Homo sapiens: one gene and its partners. The protein of the gene in region 2 purifies or fractionates together with the protein of the main gene of each other region. This does not show direct contact. Each region holds a gene or a part of one and is shown on either strand. Other genes may lie near its edges. The genes, in order: GNPTAB, PRR27 and CACNG6.

Region 1 (3,134 bases), on a different chromosome or scaffold from region 2:
CCTCTCTAGTTCCCTATTCTCTACTGGTATAGATAGAGGAAAGACTGACACTCCTCTTCCTTTCCATTAATGGCTGCTCCTTTGAGTCAGGGCTCCTTTCCTTCCCCATCCTAGGTCAGCACAGCAGACTCAAAGGTTTCTCACTGGACCCTGTTCTAAAAGCAGGTACAGCCTTTCTGAGATTTTTCATAAGACTTTTACCTGCCAGGAACAATGGTAACAGACATCAAGAACAAGATGTACAATCCCTGGAAAGCAGATGAAGGTTAAGTTGCTGTCCTGTTCACCTGCCCAGTCTCTGTTTCCTGAATTTCCTTCCATTTACAGCAAGAAGCCCATTCATTTATCCTGAAGCTCTCAGTACTTAGGTGCTTGTCCTTCTTGGTATAAGTCAACTTGGTGTACGTTTCATTTGAGTGACAGCTAGAAAAGCTCCACTCAATAGTCACCTTGATTGGAGGCAGAGGCCAAGTCACTTGCCACACCCAAGTCAGGTTGGTAAAGATGCCCATTCCCCTCCTTCAATCCTTTTTCTTCAGAGTATTTGATATGTGAATAGCCTAATGAGGACTCTCTTATCCCTTTCTCTTTACCTCACAAATCTCCCTCCGACTTCTGGACACTCACCTCAAGGAGGCTGCGTGTGTACATGCATGCAGAGGAAAGCCCAGGTGTAGAGGGGCTGACAAGGAGAGGAGGAAGGAGGAGAGAGGAGGGAGAACTCCTAGCGATTGAAAGAAAGATAAATGGGAGCTACTGGTGTGAGTGGGACAACACAACGGAACCGTGGGATGTCTGAAGACACTGTGCTCACTCAAGGAAGCGTGAAAGAGAGGAAGAAAATTGGAGACCCATAGAAAATTAACATTAGATAAGGATTCTAGATGGTTTTTTGGTTATAAATACTTAGAGCTACTTGGTTTTAGCCTGATATCTACAAGTTAATCTGTTGAGTTCCAGATAAAAAGAATACTGGTAATGGATTTAGAAGAGAAATGAATAAAAGACTGTTATATTTGCTGCCTGAATATTGTGAAACATATTTAACATATTCACATATGAGCTATAAGACAATAAGAGAAGTTAAAATTTTGATTGTAAATGTGTATCATTTTCTAAAACATTCAGATGCTAGTATACCAAGAAATACCATTTAATACCCACATAAAATATATAAAACTTACCTGCTCAGCAAAAAATGAGAATATAGTAAACATAATCAATGTTGCTAGTACACAATGGGTCCAAAACTTCAATTTGTCTCGATAAGCCCTCCTGTGCAGAGAGAAGAAAGCAACTATGTACTTCTGTATATGGTTTCACTACCATTAGTTAAGCATTATTTATATACTAGTTCTATAAAAACAATGTTGGGAAACACAAAAACATTGTCTTGCAATTCTAAAATGCTCACACAATATACATTTCCAACACGAGTTCAGATTTTTTATTATGTCATAGTAAATATTATACTTGAATTAGTGAAGTTATCCAGGCAGGAGAGAGGACTTCAAAAGAAAATTACTTCTGGCACTTAAACAAAACCACTCTTTCATTCATTTTTATTCACTCATACTTATTTATTCACTCAGTTTCTTGATAAATACTTCCTGCGTATATGGAGAGATGAACAAGATGAAGTCCCTGCTTTTAAGTGTTTAGAAAACTGAGGCGTTGCTGACATGCTGACTGATGACTTGCCATCACATAAGACACAGAAATATGCATTATCAAAAGCAAAGTCATGTGAAAAACTTAGAGAAATGAGGACAGTGCCACAGAGATGGTGGCATTTCCTGTAAGCCTTGAAGGGGACAGGAAGCATATGGATGAGAAAGAGAAGGAGCAGTAGAGTGGCACGGTGGCCAGCTGGGCCCTACAGGACTGAGTGGAGTGAATCCATGCGGCAGCATGGGGGGAACTAAGCCAGGTGAAGGCGAGAGGGTATGAACTGCAGCTGCTTTGCAAAACCACACCGTGGGGTCTGGACAGAACACTCTAGTGGGAAAGTGGATGAAACAGACAGGTGGGGGTATGTGTGACATAATCAGGGTAAACATGTTGGCCATTTGAAGGATGGACAAACAAGGAAGGCAGGCAGTTTAGTTTTAGTCCAGGCATGAAAGGAAGCAGTGACAATGAAAAGAAATAAGCAACAGAAGAGACATTCCTGAGGTAGAATCAACTGGACCTGGAGCCAAGAGAATACTGAGGATAAAAAGAGGCAGTACAGCCATTTCCTCATCTGTAATTTGGAAATAATGAACAATTGGTTACGAAGATTAAATAAAAATGCTTACCATAGGTTTGGAAGATATGCTAGTAACTACCAAACTCTGGCCTCTGTGCTGAGTTACAGATTCTCATTTTCCACTGTTTGGGCGTCTCTACCTCAAGTCACACATCCAAAACGGCACTCGCCCACACACAGCTCTTCCCCCTGTATTTCCCACTTCTGTTAATAGGATCATAACCAGCTCTGTCAACTAATGTCTAGTGTCAGTGCAGTGAGAGACAATGCAGAACTAAGCAGGATGAGGAGCAAGCAACCTCCAGGGCAGGGGAATGACTGCAAGAGCACCCACACCTGATTCACACCATTTGTACAGCACAGAAATCAAGGTCCTCTCAAATTACTTTTAAGCCCACTTCTTTCTTATTCAAATGGACCCTTGAGGGTAAATTTAGTCACAAATTGAATTTGGGGAGTTAACACTTAGAACCACCTAAAGATCTTTTTCCTCTGAGTTAAGGGAAAGTGAAAACGGTGAGAAGCCATTCCTTGCCATTTCTGGGAGACAAGACCCATGATTCAGTAATAACTTCTCCTTATGAAAATAAAAACATAAAGATAGCAGCAATATTCATCCTAATTGTCTCATTTGCCCAACTCCAAGATACCGAGGAGTTCTAGTGCCAGGGTCTGCCAATTTCCCTTTTAAAGTGTCTCCCAGTTCGTCTATTGCTTTTTCTTTATTGCCTAGGCTGTATCCTTGGTTCACACCTGACTGACTGTTTCTAGGACTAGTGAAATGCTTATATACTTGTCTCCCTGCCTCCAGTTCCCAGGCAACCCTGCCCCACTCTAAGTAACTTCTTCACCACTCCAACCTCCCCACTAATACTAGTTATCA
Region 2 (3,027 bases):
GAAGTTTGGTACTTTAAAATATCACTGGTGTATTTCTACACTGCATGTACCATTGGTCCATTATCTGGTTATATAATAAAAATAAGTAAATTAACATTTCAATCAAGGAAAAGCATCAAAACATGAAGGTAGGATTTAGCATTCATGTTGCCCTTTTACACACTCTGATTTAAATTCCAGCCCTTAAGTTACAGGAATTTACTTATTGTATTTTCTCTAGATACAGCTTAATAAGAAATGGAGGACGCTATTTTCTTACTTTATATTAAAAATTTTAAAGTTAATGAAGATACTGTTAATATTACCTTAAATTTTTTGATAGTGACCATAATTATTACACCAATTTTCATAAAATAATTTTTGAGAGTTAAGAATTGGGATACACACATGTGGAATTAAAAAACATAAAGCATTAAAACATACTTAAATGTAAGAATGTTATGGTGCTACCTCTTCACTGAATGAATCACAGTTGCATCAAACATCTCCCCACTAAAAACAAGAAAAAAAGTGACTTACTTCAGTTAGTTATTTCAATAATATTTTAATAATGTTTGCTATTAGAATCCATGGTTATTCGTATTCAAAATGGTTAGAGAAAATGTTCTTATTGGTGTCATACTCATATATGGATTTTGTAACTTATCGACATATGTAGTCATTTAAAAAAGATTATCCATTGTGATATTGGTGGAAAATAGTATTTTCTCTTATAATTTTTTATTTCAGTTTTGGGTTAAGATTTTTACTATGCATGCACATGCACACATATATACATACACACATATATGCATGTGATAATATAAATAATGAAAAGTTTTATTCAGGCTACTTGCAAAGGTCTGAGATAAGGCCTATAATTAACTTAAATTAGTCTATAAGTTCTATAGCATAATGTAGGAAATATAGTTTACTTTTTAGTCAAATAAAATGTGATATATTTGATCTTTCATGGCAAACATCAATTAAAGTGAAACTATGAATACATTCAAAAATGTGAAAAGTCTCAGAAATATAAATGTTGAGTAAAAATAGTAAATTGTGAAATGACATACCATTTATTATATGTCTTGTTTATATACATTTTTAAAACTCATAAAACTCTTTTATATATTAAGTGCCACATAAATGCATACTAAAATTTTAGAAAAAAGCCAGGGAATTATACACACAAACTTATACCTCTTTGAGGTCCTGACTTTCTGGCCACAAAAGAAAGAAATAGAAGAAAGGATGTATAGTGGGCCATCTGGCAATCACTGGAGAAGTATAGTGGTTGTTGCAGTTGATACCAGTGTGAAGGTGTGAACATTTCTTAATCGTAAATGCGAATAGTTACCTGTCTGTAGAAAGTAGCACTGAATAAGAATCAGTCACCTTCTGTAAGCAATGACATTATATCATTTTCCAGTGGCTAAAGGGAACGCTATACAGTAAAGAATTATGTAAGATGGATATAAACACACATACAAAACTCTGCAAATGTATCTTAATATCGATCAAAAGATATGACTCAAAATAATTTCGCAGTAGCATTTTTCTATAAAAAGCTCAAAAATAGGCAAAAGTGAACAATATTATTTTATAGAATACATTAGAGGTGGAAAAATCATTTTTAAAAGTAGAATGAATTACCCTAATCCACTAAGTAGTTTTTAACTCTACAGATAAGGAAGAAGGTGGATTCATAAAGCGACATTAAACAATACATGCAGTGATGGAAATGTTTTATAATTTAGTGTGAAATTTCCAGATGGTGGTGGTTACATGTATGTTTTCTTTTGGATTATTTATGATAATACAAACTTGTATGTAGTATTTTGAATGTGTCATAGACCTTACCAAAAATAGTCTTTAAAATGTATAATTAACAACATTTTTGACTAATTGAATGCAATAAATGGAAGACAAAGTAATTGAGGAAGTTCCCAATCTTCTGGTTTGGATGACTTTTCTGTGTCTCAAAGCTGATGCCTGTTTACTAACAACAGTTTGTTTTCCACAGTGGAAATTACCTCAATTCAAATGTTAGTGTTTACCTTTCACTCAATCTAACTCATCTCAATGTAGTCAGGAGGAAAAAAATGAACACTAAAAACAAAATATTATTGTAGTGATAGACTTAAATTTCATACTTTCACAACTGACAGAGCAGAACATTTCACAGTATCTTGTAGTAAAAGCAAAAACTGTAAATGTTTCTCATGATAAGATGTCATGTTTATTTTTAAAATTCCAAAATTTTCTTGGAATAAATTCTTTCTTTTACCCCATGAAAAACTTAACAAATGACTACATTCTAAATGTGATACTAAACACCACATAATGTACCATTAGCAATTATAATTTGCTAAGACTTTGTAGCCTCTTGATATTTCTATTTCGGTTCATCTTCATCTTTCTGTTGTTTCTTATACAGTCATATTTACAAATTCTTCTTTAAGTCTTCAATTCACACAAAAAGCCTGAATTTTGACAACATAATCATTAAAATTGACTATCATGTATGATTACAAATTTATCATTAAATATTTAGAAGTGAATATTGCATGTATCTGTGAAAGACAGATACTATAATAGTTTCAGATTATTGGCTAAGTCAAATTAAAGTTAGATCCTACTTGGCTCTAGAAGATGGAAGCAAACATCTCAAGTTAACAATTTTACTGTCTAAGAAAGTTTCTCATTTTTTGAGACCATGTCCTCATGGCTATACATAACAGTAATATTCTGATCCAATGTAGGATATAGGGAAAAATACAAAATTATTTCAAAATAAAAATATGTTGAATGTTTGTAAAAATTTTTTCTTCCTTCATTCTTTGTTTGTTACTTCATTCTTTCTTCTTTTCTTTCCTTCCAAAAATATTCACTGGTCACTGAATATGTCCCAGGCATTGTTATAGGCCCTGATAAAGTGCTGAATAAGACACAGAAATGCCTGTTTTTATGGAGCATATATTTTTGTGGAGATAAGATGAGGGCAACAACAAAGACAATACACAAATAAATAAAAAGGTAAAAAGC
Region 3 (4,353 bases), on a different chromosome or scaffold from region 2:
AAATGGGCTCTGAGGAGTGCCAGGTATTTTCCATGGGTCAGTGGAGGTAGAAGGAGATTTCATCCAGTTCCCAAGGGGTATAGAATGTCCCCCTGGTATAAGCACAAGCCGTGGCGTGGCGTGTCAGGGAGGTATGGAACAGCTCTCTGCCATGCCCAGGGATAAAACAGCCATGATTTGGGAAAGGAGGGAGTATGGGAATGTCTCTCGGAGAAAATGAGAAACGCTGAAATGTCCAGTCTGGGCATTTGGAGGCGAGAGGACAGGAAGTGAAGAACATTGCAGGGAAGGAACAAGGTCTGCCCTCGGGTGTTGGGAGGCGTCTGGTGAGAGCTTGGTTTGGTGGAAGCAGTAGGTGGGGAACAGGCATAGATCCTGCTTTGGGGTGGGCGTCTGTCTCCCCAGGGCTCACAGGATGGGAGCGCAAGCTGTCTCCAGGCTGGGAAGAGGAAGCTGACACCAGGAACCCAGGCTGTCTCTCCATGGGCACAGGCTGTCTGTGGGCACATGCAGAGTGGGCACGGGCTGTCTCCAGGGCACAGGCACTTCCAGAGGGTGCAGGCTGTCTGGGGTGGGCACAGGCTATCTGAGGACACCAGCTGTGTCTGGAATCACAGGCTGGGTCTGGGGACACAGGCAAGATTTTTCTAGTGACACAGGCTCTCTCTAGAGCTGTAGGCTGGTCTGGGGGGACACAGCGATGCCTGGGAACATTGGCTGTGTGGGGGCAGGGACTTTGGGGGTCATAGAATCATCTGGGACCATAGCCTGGTGTGGAGGTGCAGGCTGATCTGAGGGCACAGGCTGGTGTAAGGATGCAGGCTGGTCTGGGGGTATAGACTGGTCTAGGGGTGCATGTTAGTCTGGGGGTGGAAACTGTAGCTGGGGACACAGGCTCATCTGGGGGTACAGGATAGTCGGGGTACAGGATGGTCTTGGGGCACAGGCTGTAGGCGGGGGCACAAGCTCTCTTTAGAGGTGCAGAATAGGGGTACAGACTCGTCTGAGGGGGTCTCAGGTCACAGCCTGGTCTGGGGGTACAGGATGGCCTGGGGGCACAGACTCCCTGTAGGCACATTCTGGTCTTGGGGTACAGTCTGTAGCAGGAAAGCAAGCTCTAAGGCACAGGTTCTCTGGCGGTAGGCCCGTGAGGGACCTGGGCCATATCTGGGGGATCCCTCTATCTCTCAGCAGTTTCTGAGAGCAGAGGACGAAGTGGGCACTGGCGCTTACTGCGAGGCAAGCTGTCTCCTCCGGGCTCAGGCTTTTGTCCCTGGGGCGGGTTTTCTCCTCGGACACGGGCCCCTCTCCCTCCCTGTCCGTGGGACGCAAGCCCTGCGCTCGGGGCGGCGGCTGCTCACCTCCGGGCAGCTCCGCGGGGCCGCAGGTGTCCCTGTCCACGGGCACGTCCGCCTGCCACAGCCGCTTGGTGCACGCCTTCCACAGCCCCAGGTGGGCCGCTTCGCACACGGCGCTGCCGTTGGCCTTGTAGGTGTTGAGCTCCACCCAGAACTCGGTGCCCACGGACAGCACCGCCAGCGTGGCGCCCACGGCGGCCAGCAGCAGCGCCAGCTTCACCTTCCCCTCGCGCTCGGGCGTCAGCCCCGACCTGCCCTGCCCGTGCGCCCGCCGCCGGCCCGCGGCCCCCCGCCGCCGGTTCTCCTCTTGCAGGAAGAAGTTGGACCACATCATCTTATGGCCGGTGGGGTCGGGAAGGGGGAGGAGGCAGAGCCGGCGAAGGGCCTCGAGGGGCGGGAGCGAGGAGCGGCCTGGGGTCTTGAAGGGGGTGAGGGACTCAGTTTCCCCTGGGTATGAAAGAGGGAGAGCCGAGTCCTGTCTGGAATCTCAAATGCGAAAGTCGAGATTGCTTCTGGGGTTCAGAAGAGAAAAATGATCCCCAGGGCTGGGGAAGCCTCTGGGGTTCAGAGGAGGGTCTAGGTTGCCCTCAAGAACTTGGCAAAGAAGACGGGGCCCAGAGGAAAAACAAGGCCCCCACCCTGAGGTTTAGAGATAGAATTCGGCTTCCCAGGAGGGAGTCCCCCCAAGAGCTCCAGAGGAATGAGAACTGGTGCCCGCTGAAGCTCCCTGCAGCTCCAAGGGGCTGCTTTGGGGTCCCCGCTGGGGGGTTAACAAAAGGGAAACTGGTTTTCCTGAGAGATCTGAGCACCCCACTAGGGCTAAGAGTTTGGGGTACCCAGGAAGGGACCTGAGGTCCTGTGTGTGTTTGGAGGAGATGTGGCCGGGGTTCCCTTGGGCTCAGAGTTTGAGAACAGAGGACTTGGGGACCCTCTGGGATTCGGAAAAGGAAGACCTGGGGTCCCGGGAAGCTCCCAAGGGGAGGTCGGAATTCAATCCGGGTCTCAAGAGAGGCAGTAGGACCCCGGCATCCACAGAAGGAGAAGAACAGAGCCCTGGCTGGGGCTCAGAAGAGGACTGGGCCTCGCTGGAATTCAGGAAAAGGGGATAGGGGTCTCCCCTGCCATTCAGAAAAGATCCGAGGTCTCTACTGAGCCTGGAAAAGGGGCCGGTGGCCGGAAGACAGAGTGGAGTCCAGAGGCGGGAGGCTACGGGGCCTCCCCGAGGGCTGGGGCAGATGGGACCGGGGGCCCTCCTGGGGCTCACACTATGGGGCTGTGGTCCGCACTGCGGCTCGGAAAACCAGGACTGAGTCCCCCCAGGGTTCAAAGGCCAACCGCGACCCGCAAGAGACGCTGCGCCCCTTCGGGATCAGTCCGTCTCCCTCCCCCGGGCTCCCAGGGCCTTCCCGGTCGGGTTCGCGCCAGGCTCAGCCCCAGGCCAGGGCCCCCCCTCGGGGCTCCCACCCCCGACTCCCGAGCAGGGGCCCCTCTCGCTCTCCTGCCTCGGCCCCGCGCCGACCCCAGCTCCGCGCTGCCTCCGAAGCGTCCGGCTGTGCCCGCCACCGCCACCGGCCTGGCCTCCGCCCGCGCCCGGCCTCGTCCCCACCCGCCCACCCCCCACCCTCCACCCTCCACCCTCGGGGCTATTTCGGGCTTGACCCGTAAATAACACCCGCACCTGTCGCCCGGCGCCTGTTGCCATAGGGATCCCGGGTGTTTTAAGGGGACGAGGAAGGGGGGAGGGAGGCCGCCCGGGGAGGAAGGGGCCGAGCCTGATGGGACTTTCATTTCACTAAGGGGCAAGAGCGGCGCCGAGAGTCCCAGCTCCGCAGTCTCCCGGGCAGCAGGAGACGGGCGGGGCAGCAAGTCTGACTGGGGTTACCAGGGAGGAGGGGCGGGAGGCAGGGCCCCGGGTCTCAGGGAGGAGGGCCTGAGGCCAGGAGTCTTGGGTCCCTAAGGGAGAAGAAGCCTCGGTACCCCACTTCTGAGTGGTAGAGGAAGAAGGCCTGGGTACCCAGAATCTTGGATCTGAGAGGAGAGGAACCTGGTCTCCTAGGTCCTGGGCTCCTGAGTCTGAGGGAGGAGGGGCTGGGGGCCTGAACTCCTGGGTCTGAGGGAGGAGGGGCTGGGGTCTGGACTCCTGGGTCTGAGGGAGGAGGGGCTGGGCCTGGGCTCCTGAGTCTGAGGGAGGAGGGACTGGGGCCTGGACTTCTGGGTCTGAGGGAGGAGGGACTGGGGCCTGAACTCCTGGGTCTGAAGGAGGAGGGGCTGGGGGCCTGGACTCCTGGGTCTGAGGGAGGAGGGGCTGGGGGCCTGGACTCCTGGGTCTGAGGGAGGAGGGGTTGGGGGCCTGGGCTCCTGGGTCTGAGGGAGGAGGGGCTGGGGGTCTGGACTCCTGGGTCTGAGGGAGGAGGGGCTGGGGCCTGGACTCCTGGGTCTGAGGGAGGAGGGGCTGGGGGCCTGGGCTCCTGAGTCTGAGGGAGGAGGGGCTGGGGGCCTGGACTTCTGGGTCTGAGGGAGGAGGGACTGGGGCCTGAACTCCTGGGTCTGAAGGAGGAGGGGCTGGGGGCCTGGACTCCTGGGTCTGAGGGAGGAGGGGCTGGGGGCCTGGGCTCCTGGGTCTGAGGGAGGAGGGGCTGGGGGCCTGGGCTCCTGGGTCTGAGGGAGGAGGGGCTGGGGGCCTGGGCTCCTGGGTCTGAGGGAGGAAGGCCTGGGCCTGGACTCCTGGGTCTGAGGGAGGAGGGGGCAGGGGGCCTGGACTCCTGGATCTGAGGGAGGAGGGGCTGGGCCTGGACTCCTGGGTCTGAGGGAGGAGGAGGGCCGGGGAGCCTGGACTCCTGGTCAAGGCGTTGGCAGACCCAGAGTCCTGGGCCTCAGGGAGGAGACTGGGGCCAGAACCCTGGGTCTTGAAGGATGGAAGGCCTGATTTCCATGTTGGAGAAAGCGCAGGCCTCAGGGCAGGGCCGGCTGTCAGGGGCACAGAATGAAAGCAGCA

What was found.
Region 1: the proteins of PRR27 (region 2) and GNPTAB purify together in Homo sapiens (affinity purification with mass spectrometry; one large-scale study listed by BioGRID and IntAct). This does not show direct contact.
Region 3: the proteins of PRR27 (region 2) and CACNG6 purify together in Homo sapiens (affinity purification with mass spectrometry; one large-scale study listed by BioGRID and IntAct). This does not show direct contact.

What each region holds. Positions count from the first base shown.
Region 1 is NC_000012.12:101,747,917-101,751,050, forward strand, and holds part of GNPTAB (N-acetylglucosamine-1-phosphotransferase subunits alpha/beta precursor), read right to left. Parts: intron 1,276-3,134; coding exon 1,185-1,275; intron 1-1,184. UniProt on the Homo sapiens protein: Catalyzes the formation of mannose 6-phosphate (M6P) markers on high mannose type oligosaccharides in the Golgi apparatus.
Region 2 is NC_000004.12:70,164,111-70,167,137, reverse strand, and holds the end of PRR27 (proline-rich protein 27 precursor), read right to left. Parts: 3' UTR 529-3,027; downstream 1-528.
Region 3 is NC_000019.10:53,990,217-53,994,569, reverse strand, and holds the start of CACNG6 (voltage-dependent calcium channel gamma-6 subunit), read right to left. Parts: upstream 2,934-4,353; 5' UTR 1,693-2,933; coding exon 1,362-1,692; intron 1-1,361. UniProt on the Homo sapiens protein: Regulates the activity of L-type calcium channels that contain CACNA1C as pore-forming subunit.